Homo sapiens: one gene and its partners. The protein of the gene in region 2 interacts with the protein of the main gene of each other region in a pairwise test. Each region holds a gene or a part of one and is shown on either strand. Other genes may lie near its edges.

What was found. Proteins that work in one complex are often made in the same cells at the same time.
Region 1: the proteins of TECR (region 2) and HACD2 interact in binary tests that used the Homo sapiens proteins (3 or more experiments, as listed by UniProt).
Region 3: the proteins of TECR (region 2) and VMA21 interact in binary tests that used the Homo sapiens proteins (3 or more experiments, as listed by UniProt).

The regions. Positions count from the first base shown.
Region 1 is NC_000003.12:123,526,019-123,533,056, forward strand, and holds part of HACD2 (very-long-chain (3R)-3-hydroxyacyl-CoA dehydratase 2), read right to left. Parts: intron 2,457-7,038; coding exon 2,368-2,456; intron 1-2,367. UniProt on the Homo sapiens protein: Catalyzes the third of the very long-chain fatty acids (VLCFA) elongation four-step cycle (condensation, reduction, dehydration, and reduction).
Region 2 is NC_000019.10:14,524,696-14,532,620, reverse strand, and holds the start of TECR (very-long-chain enoyl-CoA reductase), read right to left. Parts: upstream 3,028-7,925; 5' UTR 2,925-3,027; coding exon 2,910-2,924; intron 1-2,909. UniProt on the Homo sapiens protein: Involved in both the production of very long-chain fatty acids for sphingolipid synthesis and the degradation of the sphingosine moiety in sphingolipids through the sphingosine 1-phosphate metabolic pathway.
Region 3 is NC_000023.11:151,407,203-151,409,899, reverse strand, and holds the end of VMA21 (vacuolar ATPase assembly integral membrane protein VMA21), read right to left. Parts: 3' UTR 536-2,697; downstream 1-535. UniProt on the Homo sapiens protein: Required for the assembly of the V0 complex of the vacuolar ATPase (V-ATPase) in the endoplasmic reticulum.

The DNA.
Region 1 (7,038 bases), on a different chromosome or scaffold from region 2:
GGTCCAGGGAACAGTTGACAGAGAGCAAGCACTGGCCTCTGAGGGGCCACAGCAACAGCCTTTTCAAGGTGACATATAGCAAGCACTGGCCTCTGAGGGGCCACAGCAACAGCCTTTTCAAGGTGACAGATAGTAAGCACTGGCCTCTGAGGGGCCACAGCAACAGGCTTTTCAAGGTGACATATAGCAAGTACTGGCCTCTGAGGGGCCACAGCAACAGGCTTTTCAAGTTAGCTGTCGAAGACGTAGGGCAGGGATGGAGGGCACCTACTGCTCTAAACAAAACGATGAATGAGGAGTTCTGTGCAGAGAAAAAGAGAATGAGGAGAAAAGAACCATGATCCTAGGACAGCAGAAACGCTGAAGTCCAATTACAAGTGAAAAGAGTAAGTCAATTCATCAACAGTGCATATGTAAAAACAAGAGGATCCAAGAGGCGATGGGAAGACAATAAAATATACTGAAGAATGTACTACATACTTCAGAAAATGATATGCCTTTTCTTTTTCTTTTCCTTTTTTTTTTTGGCAGGTAAAGAAAATGATATGTTAATGTTAGCAGAAATTGAGTCACTCTGGTTGTAGAGAAACAATTTTGAATATGGAAATGTAATGAGTATATAACAAATTACTGTAAAGCTCAAATGTGATAATGTATGTGAAACCGTCTGTTATATGTTAAGTCCTTTGCATCTGGCAGGCAGCATGGTTATGGAGGATGACACCAAGTCCATGTACCTATAATCCACAGAGACATTTAATAGCTTTGCAAGCCAACCAGTTTCAATGATCTACACAGGAAATCCTGGCAAATGTTGCTAACAGCAACTTGACTAATAGAATTGCCTGATTTGAGTTGTAAAGCATTTTTGACGTACCTGTCTACCTGCTTTGGCAGATGTGCTCATAGCTGAGGAGTGGTCACTAAGTGGAAGGGAGGAAGCAGAGCCCATGAAGAATCTATCAACTGGTGGATTAGCACCTGGACAATTAATATTTGACTATATTGGCAAAGTGATTGGATATTTCATAGTGAACAATACTTTGACTTCATGTACCTAGCACTTAATTACTGAAAGTACATTAATTATCTATTTAAGAATGTAAATGAGTTACTACTAGGAAGAAGTTTTAGGTCATTGGAGACTATTGGAAGATAAAATTATGAGTTGTTGGTTAAAATGAAAAGGAAATGGTATCTACACAAAAGTATGAGAGGAAGAAATATCGCAGTCCTTGCTTATCTGAAGTTTCACTTTCCGTAGCTTCTGTTACACCTGGTCAACCACAGTCCAAAAATATTAAATGGAAAATTCCTGAAAGAAACAATTCCTAATTCTTAAGTTGTACACTGTTCTCAGCAGCATGATGAAATCTCATGCTGTCCCACTCTATCCCACCTAGGACACGAATCTTCCCTTTGTCCAGTGTATCCATACTGTATATGCTACTGGCCCATTAATCACTTAGTAGCTAACTTGGTTATCAGTGCTTGTGTTCAAGTAACCCTTATTTTATTTAAAAACAGCCCCAAAATGCAAGAGTAGTGATGCTGGCAATTCAGATATGCCAAAGAGGAGCCATAAAGAACTTCCTTGAAGCGAGACAGTAAAAGTTCTCAGCTTAATAACGAAACAAAACAAACTGTATGCTAAAGTTGCTAAGTCCTACAGTAGGAACAAATCTTATATTTGTGAAATTGTGAAGGAAAAAGAAATTTGTGCTTGTTTTGCTGGTGAACCTCAAACTGCAAAAGTTGCGGCCACAGGGCATGATAAATGCTTAGTAAATATGTAAAAGGCATTACATTTGCGGGTAGAAGGCATAAACAGAAACGTGTTTCGGTCAGCAGCAATCGGGTTGTGTGCTAGCCGCTGTTTCTGGTATCCAGTGGGGGTTTTGGAATGTATTCCCCTTGGATAAGAGGGAACTACTGTATAGGTTTAAAATGATGACTTGGGTCAGGTGTGGTGGCTCATGCCTGAAATCCTAGAATTTGGGGAGAGTGAGGCAGGCAGATTGCTTGAGCTCAGGAGTTCGAGAGCGGCCTGGGCAACATGATACGAACAAGATATCAGAAAAATATAACTGAGTTGCAGACCACATCCACACCATCTGAACCTCCATGAGAACTCAGATTACAGGACTTTACCATTTAATCAGTCTTCTTTTTAACAACACTGCATATCTGGGATATGTTTCCCACTATTAACCCAGTTCCTACAGTGAATGTGAGCTTTATCTCAGCTATATTGACATGACCTGGAACTCTGACCTGGAACTCTTTAGCCATAACAAACATGTGAATCAGAAAAGTTGACTAGTGTTTGTTAGTGTTGACATTATTTTGGTCTATATAAACACTTACCTCTTTGACGCTATGTGTTACTGCCCATATTAGAAAAACTCTTGACATCACCTGGAAAGAAGTCAGGACAACAGAAGATGGAACAATTCCTGAAAGAAATTTTGGGATGGATAAATAAATGTACTGTACTAAGTTTCGATATATAATATATTTTCTAAAACATTCCAACTTAAATGTTTAGAGTCAAAACGGTCTTGAGCAACTGAAAGGTGTCTATATTGTTACACAGACTAAGTTTTCAATGTAGTCCACATTAAAACAAAGTTTTCTCCCTAAAAACAATAATATTTTTAATGGTATTATAAAACCATGGGATCCAGGTACCTTTCTTAAACCTCTCAAAACCACTGACCAAGTACAGTATTTTTTACACTTACTGTATAGATGGAGAAAGCAAAACCACTACCTAATCTTTAAAATAAGACTCATTTTACAATACGGGTTTCAAAACAAATAGGAAACAAAGGATGAGAAATCAATCCTATTTGTGTCTAATGAGTGCTGGAAGCTCATGGACATCAGACTTGATACACTATCTAATGGTTAAGTTAGGTATCTTTTATTATCTACTTGAATATTTTGCCAACAAGCATAACAACATAAAAGACTATCTTTAAAACCTTTTTTTTTTTTTATCACCTTGTTCATTACAAGCCCTGGCACAATTATCCTCCCAATGTCCTCAAGTTATAACACTGGAATCATCTTTGATTATTTTCTTTATTTATTTTTTGAGACCGAGTCTCACTCTGTCACCCAGGCTGGAGTGTAGTGGTGCAATCTCAGCTCACTGCAACCTCCACCTCCCAGGTTCAAGTGATTCTTGTGCCTCAGCCTCCCAAGTAGCTGGGACTACAGGCATGTGCCACCATCGCTGGCTAAGTTTTTGTACTTTTGGTAGAGATAGGGCTTCACCATATTGGCCAGGCTGGTCTTGAACTCCTGACCTCAGCTGATCCGCCTGCCTCGGCTTCCCAAAGTGCTGGGATTACAGGTGTGAGCCACCACACCTGGCAGTTAGTTATATCTTAACAAAGCTGTTACTAAAAAAATAAATGGCCAGAAACAGTGGCTCACGCCTGTAATCCCAACACTCTGGGAGGCTGAAGCAGGAGAATTGCTTGAGTCCAGGAGTTCTAGACCATCCTGCACAACATAGCGAGACCTTGTCTCTACTAAAAATAAAAAACATATTAGCTCGCCATGGTAGCGTACGCCTCTAGTACCAGTTCTAGGGAGGCTGAGGCAAGAGGATTGCTTGAGTTTGGGAGGTTGAGGCTGCAGTGAGCTGTGATCATGCCACTGCACTCCAGCCTGGGTGACAGAGTGAGGTCCTGTCTCAGAATAAATGAGTAAAAGTAAATAAATACATAAATAAATGTATAAATGAATTATAAAACCTGGTTATATAATTGTGTAATACAGCTAACAGAGCTAATTAGTAAGTCAAACATTTAGTGAATATATTTAGCCAGATCACACTTAGATGGGACAATATGCAGTTGTGGATTTCCTCTAGAAACCAATTTAAAAAAAAAAATATATTGAAGATGGAAAGCTCATATACTGCAAAACAAGGCTTATGTTTTAAGCCATTCTTGTAAAATAATGTTTAATATTTAGGAAAATGGCAGAATTGTACTCTTCCATATTTCTATTATAATAGACCTATTTTGAAAATCATATTTTGCTTATTAACATGTTAAGTTTCATTTTGCTGGGAGAGGGGGATTAATGAGGTTGAAGCAATAACTACCTAGGCACCTGTAAGGAAAGCACCCATATAGAGGAAGCCTTTGATTTCTTTGATTTCAAACAAACAAACAAACAAAAAGTAAAAAGAAAAGAACTGAGAATTAAAGGATTTCTTTTTTTAAAAAAAAGAGACCAGATTTCACTCTGTCACCCAGGCTGGAGTACATGACGCCATCATATCTCTCACTGCAGCCTCAAACTCCTGGGCTCAGGCCATCCTCTCGCCTCAGCGTCCCAAGTAGCTGGGACCACACGGTGTGCCAGGTAATTTTTTTTTTTTTTTTTTTGAGACGGAGTCTTGCTCTGTCGCCAGGCTAGAGTGCTGTGGGGCGATCTCAGCTCACTGCAACCTCCAACTCCCTGGTTCAAGGGGTTCTCCTGCCTCCGCCTCCCGAGTAGCTGGAGTTACAGGCATAAGCCACCATGCCCGGCTAATTTTTATATTTTTAGTAGAGATGGGGTTTCATTATGTTGGCCAGGATGGTCTCGATCTCCTGACCTTGTGATCCGCCTGCCTTGGCCTCCCAAAGTGCTGGGATTACAGGCGTGAGCCACTGCGCCCGGCCTGCCCAGGTAATTTTTTAAAGTTTTTGTAGAGACAACGTCTTGCTATGTTGCCCAGGCTGGTTTCGAACTCCTAAGCTCACACAATTCTCCTGCCTTGGCCTCCCAAAATGCTGAGATTACAGGCGTGAGCCCCCATGCCCAGCTAAAGTAACTTTTTGTTGTTGTTGTTGTTGTTTTTAGATGGAGTTTCACTCCTGTCGCCCAGGCTGGAGTGCAATGGCGCAATTTCGGCTCACTGCAACCCCTGCCTCCTGGGTTCAAGTGATTCTCCTACCTTAGCCTCCCGAGTGGCTGGGATTATAGGCACGCGCTACCATGCCCAGTTCATTTTTGTGGTTTTAGTAGAGACGGGGTTTCACCATGTTGGTCAGGATGGTCTCGATCTCTTAACCTCGTGATCTGCCCGCCTCAGCCTCCCAAAGTGCTGGGATTACAGGCGCTAAGAGTAACTTTAAACAAATGGAACTAGAAGGTCTAGGGGCAAAAACTGCAATTCAGCTGAACACAGGTTTATTAATTATTCCCTCTCCACTATAAATCACCCTTCTCTAGGGAATATAAATTTGTATTTGTCTCCCTTTCAAAAATGCCATACATAAATTAACAGTGTTTTTCTTTTCTTTTCTTTTTTTGAGACAGTCTTGTTCTATCGCCCAGGCTGGAATGCAGTGGCACAATCTTGGCTCACTGCAACCTCCGCCTCCCAGGTTCAAGTGATTCTTGTGCCTCAGCCTCCTGAGTATCTGGGATTACAGGTATGCACCACCATGCCTGGCTAATTTTTGTATTTTTGTTAGAGGCGGAGTTTCAGGTCATCTGAAACTGACCTCAGGTCATCCACCCGCTGCCTCGGTCTCCCAAAGTGCTGAGATTACAGGTGTGAGTGAGCCACCACACCTGGTCAACAGTGTTTTTCTTAAAAATGCTTTAGTATCCACACACACACACAACGATTTATTTAGTGTATTTCTCACCAGTCTTTTCCTCTAAGCATATTTTAAACCAGTTTAACTTCTACTGTTTATATTGTTTTTGCTTTTCTCATTTAACATTTTAAGAATTTTCCTTCTCTTCTTCAAAAGATTTTAGCTTAAATCATGATATTCCTTTGAGTTAATATGTTTGTTTATTCTCCTTCTGTGGGACATTTAAATTGCCTCGAATTTCTTGATACTATAAATGAAGTAATGAAGCATTACAAATAACACTCAAAATTCGAGGCTTAGACCTTTTTTTAAAAAAAGGATTATTTCCTTGGGACATTTTCCCAGAAGTAGAAGTACTAGGTCAAATGGCATGAATGTTTTTAAGGCTCTTGAAATGTATTGCCAAACTGCTTTCTAAGAAGTTTATTACCAATTTATACTCCCACCAGCAATATACAAAAGTGCCTGTCTTAGCACACCTTTGGCAGTAAATTTAAATCTTAATAAGTAGTGAACAAAAAGCTGATCAATACTTTCTAATTGAAGTAGATGTCAAGATGTTTCTGGCCTTGCCTGCAGGTGCTTCTACCGTTCTCTATCCAGTGAACTCGCCTACTTAGACACCTTAATTTTCCCCAAATCATGTCATTCAGACCAACTGTCACTTAGTTTCTCTGTAGCATAGACAACTACTTCAACCAGTCACCCAGCAAACAGCAGTTCAGGCCCTCACCTGACAGCACAATCTCGAAATGCCTGCTCTACTGGACCAGTCAAAAGGCCAAGAGCTCTATCCCTGAATTTAAGCTAAAGAACAGATGGCCACATAGATGGGCATTATCTCAGCTCTGAACAGAGCTGGCATCACCAAGTTGGGCTTATCATTATTATCAGGTGAATTTCATAAGAAACTAAGGCCAGGCACAGTGGCTTACGCCTGTAATCCCAGCACTTTGGGAGGCTGAGGTGGGCAGATCACCTGAGGTCCGGAGTTTGAGACCAACCTGGCCCCTGGCCAACATGGTGAAACCCCGTCTCTACTAAATACAAAAATTAGCCGGGCGTGGTGGCAGTCGCCTGTAATCCCAGCTACTCGGGAGGCTGAGGCAGGAGATCTCTTGAACCCGGGAGCAGAGTTTGCAGTGAGCCGAAAACGTGCCACTGTACTCCAGCCAGGGTGACAGAGTGAGACTCCGTCTCAAAAAAAAAAAAAAAAAAAAAAAAAAGACTGTCAAACAGTATTAATATTACCTTATTTGCCGTAGGAATGGTGTACAGTATAATGTCCACCCTATCACTCAAAGCCTCTCATACAGGTAGGAAATTTGTTTTAGAGCTCAATGTTAAGAAAGGTTTGCTCCTTTCCAATAATAAGAATTATATAACTCTGTCACCCTCTTTAACTTGGTAGCCAGAAACCTTC
Region 2 (7,925 bases):
TGGCAGAGAATAACAAACAACACAGCAAAATAACAATTTATTTTTTCCTTCAAGGTCACTTTGAACAGTGAGTTTGAAGCTTCCCTTTTTTTTTTTTTTTTTTTTTTTGAGACAGACTCTCGCTCTGTCATCCAGGCTGGAGTACAGTGGCATGATCTCAGCTCACTGCAACCTCTGCCTCCAAGTAGCTGAGATTACAGGCGTGTGCCACAACACTCGGCTCACTTTTGTATTTTTAGTAGAGACAAGGTTTCTCCATGTTAGCCAGGCTGGTCTTGAACTCCTCACCTCAAGCGATCCGGCCACCTCAGCCTACCAAAGTGCTGGGATTACAGGCGTGAGCCACCATGCCTGGCCAAAGCTCCCCCTTCTTTCTGGGAGAGAAAAGGATTAAGTACGGTGGAGCATATTCTCCAGTCCAAGTCTTGGGCCTCAGGCTGTGCCCAGCTTCCTGGAACAAAAGCACGCACCCCCAGGGTGCTCAGAGGCCTACTTTATCTGACTGTTAACTAGCAAAACTAAACCAACTACATTTGCAAAATGCCATATGGATGTTCCAAACTGCATGTTTCAAGCTGGACATGGTAGCTTTTTTTTTTTTTTTTTTTTTTCTTCAAACAGGGTCTCTGTTGCCCAGGCTGGAGTGCAGTGGCCTGATTTTTGGGCTCACTGCAGCCTCAACCTCCTGGGCTCAAGCCATCCTCCTGCTTCAGCCTCCCGAGTAGCTGAGACTACAGTAGTGGGACTACAGGTTTAGATATAGAGTTTGAGAGGGGAATCCACATCAGAACTTCATTCTAGAATGAAAACTTAAATGACAGAGATTATTGAATACAAACCTCCTCATTCTTGATACCATGTCAAAAATTACAGGATTTGTGGGTTAAAGGCTTCTAAGGGGCTAGGCACCGTGGCTCATGCCTGTAATCCCAGCACTCTGGGAGGCCAAGGTGGGTGGATCACCTGAGGTCGGGAGTTCGAGACCAGCCTGACCAACATGGAGAAACCCTGTCTCTACTAAAAATACAAAATTAGCCGGGCATGGTGGCTCATGACTGTAATTCCGGCTACTCAGGAGGCTGGGGCAGGAGAATCACTTGAACCCGGGAGGTGGAGGTTGCGGTGAGCCAAGATCACGCCATTGCACTCCAGCGTACTCAACAAGAGCGAAACTCCGTCTCAAAAAAAGGCTTCAAAGGATTGTGGGTAAATTTCCAAAAATAGTAGCAATAAAGGGGGCAGGAGGCAGAGGTAGTAATATTCAACTTGTCAATAAAAACAAACAGCCGGGCGCACTAGCTCACACCTGTAATCCCAGTACTTTGGGAGGCCGAGGAGGGCAAATCACTTGAGGTCAAGAGTTTGAGGCCAGCCTGGTCAACATGGTGAAACCCCCATCTCTACTAAAAATACAAAAAATTAGCCGGGCATGGTGGCGGTCACCTGTAATCCCAGCTATTCAGGAGGCTGAGGCAGGAGAATCGCTTAAACCCAGGAGGCGGAGTTTGCAGTAGGCCGAGATCGCGCCATTGCACTCCAGCCCGGGCAATAAGACCGAAACTCTGTCTCCAAAAGAAAAAAAAAATCCTTCTACGTATCCAAGGTACCTAGAGTAGTCAATTCATTAAGACGGAATGGTGGCTGAGTAGAATGGTGGCTGCCAGAGGTGGAGGTGGAGAGGAATGGGGAGTTAGTATTTAACGTCTACAGCTTCTGTTTTCCAAGATGCAAAGAGTTCTGGAGATGGGTGGTGGTGATGGTTGCACAACAATGTGAATGTTCTTAATGCCACTGAACTGCACACTTAAAAATAGTCAAGATGGTAAATTTTATGTGTATTTTGCCAGAATTTTTTAAATTGGAGGGGAAGTGAGAAACAAGAAATCGCTCGACCTGCTATTTTTCATTTGAGGACCAGCATGGCATAGTGGCTAGGAACTAAGACCTTGGCGTCCTGAGTTCCCCTATCTGTTTTGCATTTACTAACTAGGGGCCTTTGAACAAGTCACTTTATATCTCTGAGACTTTATTCATCCTTACAAACAGGAATAATAATAGTTCTTATACAAGGTAACAGAATCTCACCAGCACAAGAGTAAGCACTTGCTAAATTGTTATTTTGAATTTTAATAACAAATTTTATTATTTGATGATAGTTACTTAAAAGTCAGCAATAATTCAGGGATAATTGGTTGAATTATTAATATTATATTATCACCTAGGGCGATAAGCACATCAGAAGACTTCGTTTTAAGGGAAAAAGAGACCCAAGTTAGGAGTCAGAAGACTTGGGCTTCAAGAGTGGCTGTGGGTGGGTATAAGATTTCTCCTTGGTGACACCCAAGGGTTGACGTAGATGACCTCTTTGATAACCAGAAAGCAAGATCAGCTTCGCTGCTCTGCGAAAGCCAGCCGTGGAGCTGCACCTCCCTCACCGCCTAAGTCTCCCGGGAACGTCCCGGGCGAGGGAAGGGGTCCAAAGGTCGTACACAAGAATACTGATAGCAAAGCCCCTTCCTACGCTGGTGACGGCGGCGTGGCGCAAGATTTGTGCAAGACTCCCTCGGATTGGGAGCAAGGGTCCCGCACCTTCGTGGCTCCCATGACAAAGTCTGCAACTCAGCCCGCTGGGGGAGCTGCAAGGAACCTGCAAGCGTCCCAGCCCCTGCAGAGACCCCCAAGAAAAAGTACCCCCAAAACAGCCTGGGTTGCAGATTTATAAATACTTCCTGCGCACATGCGCATTGGAATTTACGAGTGGCCCGGGGCGCAACGCTTGCCCACTGCGCCTGCGCCGTCTGGCTCTTCCTTCGGGGCACAGGACCAGAAAGTGGGGTCCCGTGGTCCCGCAAAGAAGGAAAAAGAATGGGTCAGCAGTGGCCACACGGCCCCTGTTTCTCGCTTCTTACCTCGTAATGCTTCATGGCTCCCTCCCACGGCGGCTACTGCTCCGCGGCTGCTGCTGCCTAACTGCGCGGCACAGCACAGGCTCCCTACAGCGCTCGCAACCGCAGCGATAGACTAAACGCGGCTCTGCGTCCGCCCCGCCCCTCCAGGCCGCGCGCGCCCCGTCGGCCAATCAGGGCACGAGGCGCCCACGTTCGCCCCTGCTCCTTGGGGCCGGTCCGAACCAAGACTAGGACTAGCACCAGGGGATTGACCAATCAACTTGCGAGACCAATCGAAGGGGGCGGAACGCCTGTAGGAGGGGCTAAAGAGAAGGGGCTTGACCATCCACCAATCCAAAGGAGGTCTCTGCCCCGCGCGTCCCTTTGCCACGCCCCCTGATGGCGTCGCTGTGGAAACCAAGGTAAGCGACGGTTAGGCCAGACGCGGGGGCGGGGTAAGAAGTTGAGTGACAGGCAAGGCAGCATCCACATGACAGGCGGCGCCGAAGGGGTAAATTCTGAGGTGGGCGGCCCCCGGGGTACACCGGGAACAGCAGGAGAGGGCTAGGGGCTGGGGTCGCGGGCTGCGGAGTCTGGTTGGCGAGGAGGTCACTATGGGAGGAGACTCTTGAGTGGGAGGGAAGGAAAGGCGAAACGGAGTCGCGAAAAGCTCCCCATTTGGGAACCCCCAACCTGCAAGAACCTTGAGCCCCAGCCCCATTCTGGGGTGGCTTCACTGCCGTTTTTAATGAAAGCCCCGCCCCACTTTGTTTTTCTGTTTTGTTTTGTTTTTGAAACAATCTCGTTCTGTCCCCCAGCTGGAGTGCAGTGGCGCAATGACGGCTCACGCAACCTCCGCCTCCCGGGTTCAAGCGATTCTCATGCCTCAGCCTCCCAAGTAGATGAGATTACAGGCACCCGCCACCACGCCCGACTAATTTTTGTATTTTTTTTAGTAGAGACGGGGTTTCCCCATGGTTGGCCAGGCTGGTCTTGAACTCCTGACCTCAGGTGATCCTCCCGCCTCAGCCTCCCAAAGTGCTAGGATTACAGGCCTGAGCCACCCCGCCCGGCCCCCCTCCACACTTTGCTCCGCCCTATGGACAGGGGAACTACATTGGTCTCTGCCTGACGTCCAGAATCGTGTCTAGTGGCTCCAATGGGGCCACTGAGCCCTTGAAATGGGGCTGGTCCAGGCCGGGAACGATGGCTCACACCTGTAATCCTAGCACCTTGGGAGGCCGAGGGGGGCAGATCACGAGGTGAGGAGTTCGAGACCAGCCTGGCAGATATGGTGAAACCTCATCGCTACTAAAAATACAAAAATTAGCCGGGCGTGGTGGTACACACCTGTAGTCCCAGCTAATCAGGAGGCTGAGGCAGAAGAATTGCTTGAACCCGGGAGGCGGAGGTTGCAGTGAGCCAAGATCTCGCCACTACACTCCAGCCTGAGCAACAGACCGTCTCAAAAAAAAAAAAAGAAAAAAGAAAAAGAAATGGGACTGGTCCAAATTGAGATGTGCTGTAAATGAAAAACACATAAATTTCTGGCCAGGCACGGTGGCTCACACCTGTAATCCCAGCACTTCGGGAGGCCAAGACAGGCAGATCACATGAGGTCAGGAATTCAAGACCAGCCTGGACAACGTGGTGAAACCCTGTCTCTACTAAAAATACAAAAATTAGCCAGGTGTAATGGTGGGCACCTGTAATCCCAGCTACTAGGGAGGCTGAGAATCGCTTGAACCCGGGAGGTGGAGGTTGCAGTGAGCCAAGATCGCACCACTGCACTCCAGCCTGGGCGACAGAGTGAGATTCTGTCTCAAAAAAAAAAGAAAAAAAAAGAAAAGACTTTTGACAGACAAAGGAACAGGCAGTACCTGGCACACTTCTTCACCTCCTCTCCTTACTCTTGTTTCCAGATCCTGCCCCTGAGCTTTCATGAGCTGTTGAACCATCTGGAATTCACAGGCCTGTCATGAGAGACACGATGAGAAGTCCTTAAAGGTAGATCACTGATTCACAGGGGAGCAGGCGGAGGCAAGGGTGAGTCAGTGCTTGGAACTCAGTCATCCAGATTTGGCTCTGGAAACTTCTGAAGCTGTAGCCTTTGGGGATCCCTGACTGCGAGTACAGGAAGCCAACGCTATGTGGTCTTCTGGAAACTCATTATCTTTTTCACTGGTGCTATCTGGGAAAAACAGATGAAAACCTGAAGGTGTTCTGTATGTGTGCTTTCAAAAGCAAGGATCTGGCCGGACGCAGTGGCTCAGGCCTGTAATCCCAGCACTTTGGGAGGCCGAGGCAGGAGGATCACCTGAGGTCAGGAGTTTGAGACCAGCTTGGCCAACATGGCGAAACCATCTCTACTAAAAGTACAAAAATTATCTGGGTGTGGTGGTGGGCACCTGTAATCACAGCTACTCAAGTAGCTGAGGCAGAAGAATCAGTTGAACCCAGGAGGCAGAGGTTGCAGTGAGCAGAGATCACACCACTGCACTCCAGCCTGGGTGACAAGAATGAAACTCCGTCTCAAAAAAAAAAAAAAAAAAAAAAAAAAAAAAAAAGCAGAGATATTTTTCTGGTGGCAGTTTGAGTTTTGAGGCCTTCTGTGTCATGACAGGCCTCACTCCCTGCCCTTCTTGGGTGCTGGGGGAGAGTATTTGCTTCCAGGCCACAAGTTAATTTTTTAGTAGAGATGGGATCTCATTATGTTGCCCAGGCTGCTCTGGAACTCCTGGCCTCAAGTGATCCTCCCTCCTCGGCCTCCCAAAGCGCTGGGATTACAGGCATGAGCCATCCCACTCGGCCTGAGACCACAGTTAAAATCCTATCAGATTGAGTTACCTGAGGTACTTGATTGTGAGGGGCCATGGGGATAGGGTTGAAACCCTAAGACCCATCCATGTGTTGCTCCTTCACCAGTTATGCAAATTTTCAACTTATTTAATGTGATCTGAAGAGGTGAGTCTTCCATCTCTGGGTTGCAGTTAGATAGGGCATGATGGTGTACAAGTAGGTGTCATTTTGAAGAGATTCCATACATATTCCCATAAACTCAGAACGTTTTGGAAATTCCCTTTTGAGACTGCTTTTCTGAGCCCCACACTTACTCAACAGGCACCAAATCATCCTCATGCACCTACTATGCTGCGTGTCAACCGGAACATACAAATAATTTCCACCCCCTCCTCACCCATAAGAAGCTGGCAGAAAGGCAAGATCCAGCCTCCAAAGTAGAATTCCTCTTTGTTTTTGAGGGGTGTTGCAGGCTTGAGGAACCCCTTGTTTGCCCATCTGGCTTCCGGTAACCAGGCTGTCAGCAGAAATGAAACCCACCCTTGGAATGAAGACTGGCCACTTTGTTCAAGCCACTGAGGACACTGTACTGTGGCCCCCTGACAGTGCCTGTCTGTAGGGACAGCTAGATCCTGCTGGTCCCTTCACAGTCCCAGCAGTGGCTGATTCACAATGGTGACTGGTAGATCTGTTGGGTCGTTGTTGAGCTGATGGTAACTAGCTCCTTTATTAAAGTAATTTCCAAGGGAGAAACTGCAAGAGACGGCCTAAGCTGCGGCAGCTTCCAAGGATGAGCTTTTCTGGACCTCAGGTTTGGGGGGAACCCGAGACCATTTGAATGCCAGAGATGTGATGTGTTTGGTAATGTCGTGTCTCACAAGCTCCTTTTGTATTTCCCATGGGCAGATCAGGTCGGATCTTGACTTTTTCCAGAACCTGGCTTGGCTGGTTTGGGTTGTGTATGAATGAGCTGGCTCGCTGGGTGTGTGAGGGGAGGTGAAGCTGGGACTAGACAAGCCAGGGCTCGTTAGCAAGTTTCTGCTGTGTCAGGAATCCCAGAGAGAGGTTTCCCAAGCCCTATCCTGTCTTGCCTGGGTTGTTTGGTTTTTCTCCTTCTTTTTTTTTTTTTCATTGAAGTGTAATTGACATGTAGTAAAATTCACCCATTTTAGTGTACAGCTCTGAACACATACGGTCATGCAACCACCACTACAATCAAGATACAGAGCATTTACACCAACCCAAAAAATTCTCCAAACTACTCCATTTGTTGCAGGTCCCAGCCCCTGGCAAGCATTCATCTGCTTTCTGTCCTGATACTTTTGCCTTTTCCAGAAGGTTGAGTGAAATGGAATCATGCAGCCTTTTGAGCCTGGCTTCTTTCACCCACATAATGCATATGAGGTTCATCTGTAATGTTGTTTTTTTGTATCCGTAGCTCATTCCTTTTTATAGCTGAATAGTATTCCATTGTGTGGATGGATCCCATTTGTTTATCCATTCATCCATTGAAGGACAGTTAGGGTTTAACTGCTGTTGGTAATAACTAATAAAGCCTCAGCAAACATTCGCTCATGAGACTCCATCTCAAAAAAAAAAACAAAAAAAGTAGATTTTACCCTGCTGGTGTTGCTATGTTGATGAAATTGAGAGGAGCCAGGAAATGAACATTATAATAGTATCTTTTTTATTTTTATTTTTGAGATGGAGTCTCGCTCTGTCACCCAGGCTGGAGTGCAGTGGCGCAATCTCGGCTCACTGCAACCTCCACCTTCTGGGTTCAAGCGATTCTCCTGCATCAGCCTCCCGAATAGCTGGGTTACAGGTGTGCACCACCATGCCCAGCTAATTTTTGTGTTTTTAGTACAGACGGAATTTCACCATGTTGGTCAGGATGGTCTCCATCTCTTGACCTTGTGATCCTCCCGCCTCGGCCTCCCAAAGTGCTGGGATTACAGGCATGAGCCACCGCACCCAGCCATGAATTTTTATATATGAACAAAGGTTTTCATTTCACATGGGTATCCCACTGGGAGTGGGATTGTTGGCTCATATGGCTATAGCGCTTTTTGAAGGTCTTTTTTTTTTGAGAACGAGTCTCGCTCTGTTGTCCAGGCTGGAGTGCAGTGGCACCATCTCGGCTCATTGCAACCTCCACCTCCTAGGTTCAAGTGATTCTCCTGCCTCAGCCTCCCAAATAGCTGGGATTACAGGTGCACGCCACCATGCCTGACTAAT
Region 3 (2,697 bases), on a different chromosome or scaffold from region 2:
CTGAGTTCCCTGGACATCTCATAACCTATAAAATTTGTTAATACTAAGACGTCTCAAATGTGTTTGGGAAGGGGATATTAACATTTATTAGTAAGAATTAGCTGGAGTCCTCAGAAGCACAGGAAGGAGCTGGAGTGCAATCAACGGGTGATTAGAGGACAGAGGACACAGGACATTGGTCATGAGGGGGTGGCATGTGGACGTCGTCAGGAATTATCTATTTCCACATTTCTCAACTCTCCTTTAGGGGCATTTGAAGCCCACCCCAGACGAAGTATAACCAGCCCTTTACAGCTCAACACCCCTCCCCCACACTCCCAATCAGTTTGAGCATTTCTGGTTGACATTTACTGCATAAAAACTTATCCTTGACAGCTCTCTATATAATCTACATAGCACAAACAGAGGCCAACGAACAAATTTTTTAAAGTGAGCTCTGTACATATTCTACATGTTATAAAATGAGAAGCAGGCAAACAAATTTTTAAAAACACAGCGGTTAATAAAACATTAATTGAATCAGGACACAGCAAAGTAGCACTACAAACACTTTTTTTAATGACATCAGATGGTACATTTATACAAATTACAAGCTACAATATAGTGAATACAAAATCCATCCAGAAAACGGTTAGAAAAGCATCACTTAACAGAAGTAAATCGGATTCAAGTAGCTAAAGAACTCAAGCCCCCCATTTTGATGATTATACACGGCTTGAAATGCAGCACATCCAAATCCTCCCCCTAGTCAGGGCACTATTCAATACTACAGCATATTCAATGACTCTAGTGATGTAAAGATTCTAACACTTTTAGCATCGACGTCAAGAGACATCTCGTAACAGGTTCACTATGCAAAACTCAAATGAGAATGTGTGAACGTTCTTTGCAAACTGTAAGGTGCTGTGCAGATGTTGTTAGCTATTGCTATTATTACTGTTCAGTGAGATTACACTGAACGTGGGGAAAAGGAAGACTACTCTGTATAACTGACAAATATGACTTACAGAACATCTTAAAAGGAATGCAGATATTACTTTCAAATACACATAGCAACAACACAGGCAAGGAAAGTGTGGCCAGGAGTGATGTCGAGGAATTCCTATTTTAAGGAATATATAAAGGATTAAGCTATTCATAGATTATGTGTAATATTTATCATTAGATTCCCAAAGTCCCTGAAAATAATTTATTTTTAAGGTGACCCTTTCCCCCTGAAAAGGGAAAAAGAAATCTTGTCAGGTTACTAATGTGCTGCTTCAGCCAGCTCTTGTAAAAATTATCTTAAACATAGGAGTACAGTCTGAATTAATAGTTATACTAATCTGGTGGGTGACACAGAGTGCTTGACAGCAGAGAAACCTGCCACTGACCTCAGACAAGTGACAAATTCTGTGTCAGAGTTGAACCATAAGTTTACAACTTCACTTGGGCATAAATTAAACAATAAACATGAACTTGTCTAGAGATAAGAAATACACACTAGGTACATCTAAAATCGGATTTAAATCCTTTTTATGTACTTTCGGGTTTCATCTTTCTTTGTATATACCCTACTTGTTTAACTGATTTTAGTGGTCTCCTTGGGTATTCTAACTGTATACATAAAATTGACATGAAAATGGAAAACAAACGCCAAACAAGTCAATTGGTTGTTTCTTTTGGCAAAGCTGATGACATTTTCATGATGAAAATGTTCCAATTATTAGGCCAGGCACGGTGGCTGATACCTGTAATCCCAGCACTTTGGGAGGCGGAGGCGGGTGGATCACCTGAGGTCAGGAGTTCGAGACTAGCCTGGCTAACATGGTGAAACCCCGTCTCTACTAAAAATACAAAAATTAGCCGGGTGTGGTGGCACGCACCTGTCATCTGAGGTACTCAGGGGGCTGAGGCAGGAGAACTGCTTGAACCCGGGAGGCGGAGGTTGCAGCGAGCCGAGATTGCGCCCTTGCACTCCAGCCTGGGCAAGAAGGGCAAAACTCCGTCTCGAAAAAAAAAAAAAGAAAAAAGAAAACAAAATGTTCTAATTATTACAATGTATTTCTGTTAGATTTCCATGAAACATGGGGATTTTTAATGGCAGGTTTAAATTTTTTTTCACTAACAACCCCAAACCAAATTCTACTGTTATATGTACAATGGTATCCATTTGAAGAACTAATGACATCAGATACATTCTACAGCAGACTTTTCATTTCTCAACACAAATGAGAAAAAGGACTACATTCTCCAGGGCCAAACAGGAGGTGAGGAAGGTAATGTGTTACCGTAAATAGGGTTAAATCAGTAGTTTGGACTGACACTTCAAGTTATATCTCCTAACTGAGGTTATTCTTACAATCAGTTTTCAAACAATAGGGAACATATTTCTACCTTAAAACATGTATAAGGGCTCAACTGTAGCTTTCCTTTCTATACATCTTGAAGTATATACATTGTGTAAAAGGAAACTAGTGAGACATTTTGAAAAATAAATCTATTTGCCAAATACCATATGTTATTTAACATAGTTAAAAACAGCAGCAAACTAGTGAGTTAACAGTTAAAACTCTAGGAAAAAACTGCTTTGAAAACAAGCCTATTTTGTTATAAGCCTAAATATCAACCCTAGCATTTGATTTTAACCTTCAAACATTTGGCGCTTTTTCCAAGAGGAAATTACAACTGCCTTTGCATATGCCCCTGGTTTAAATA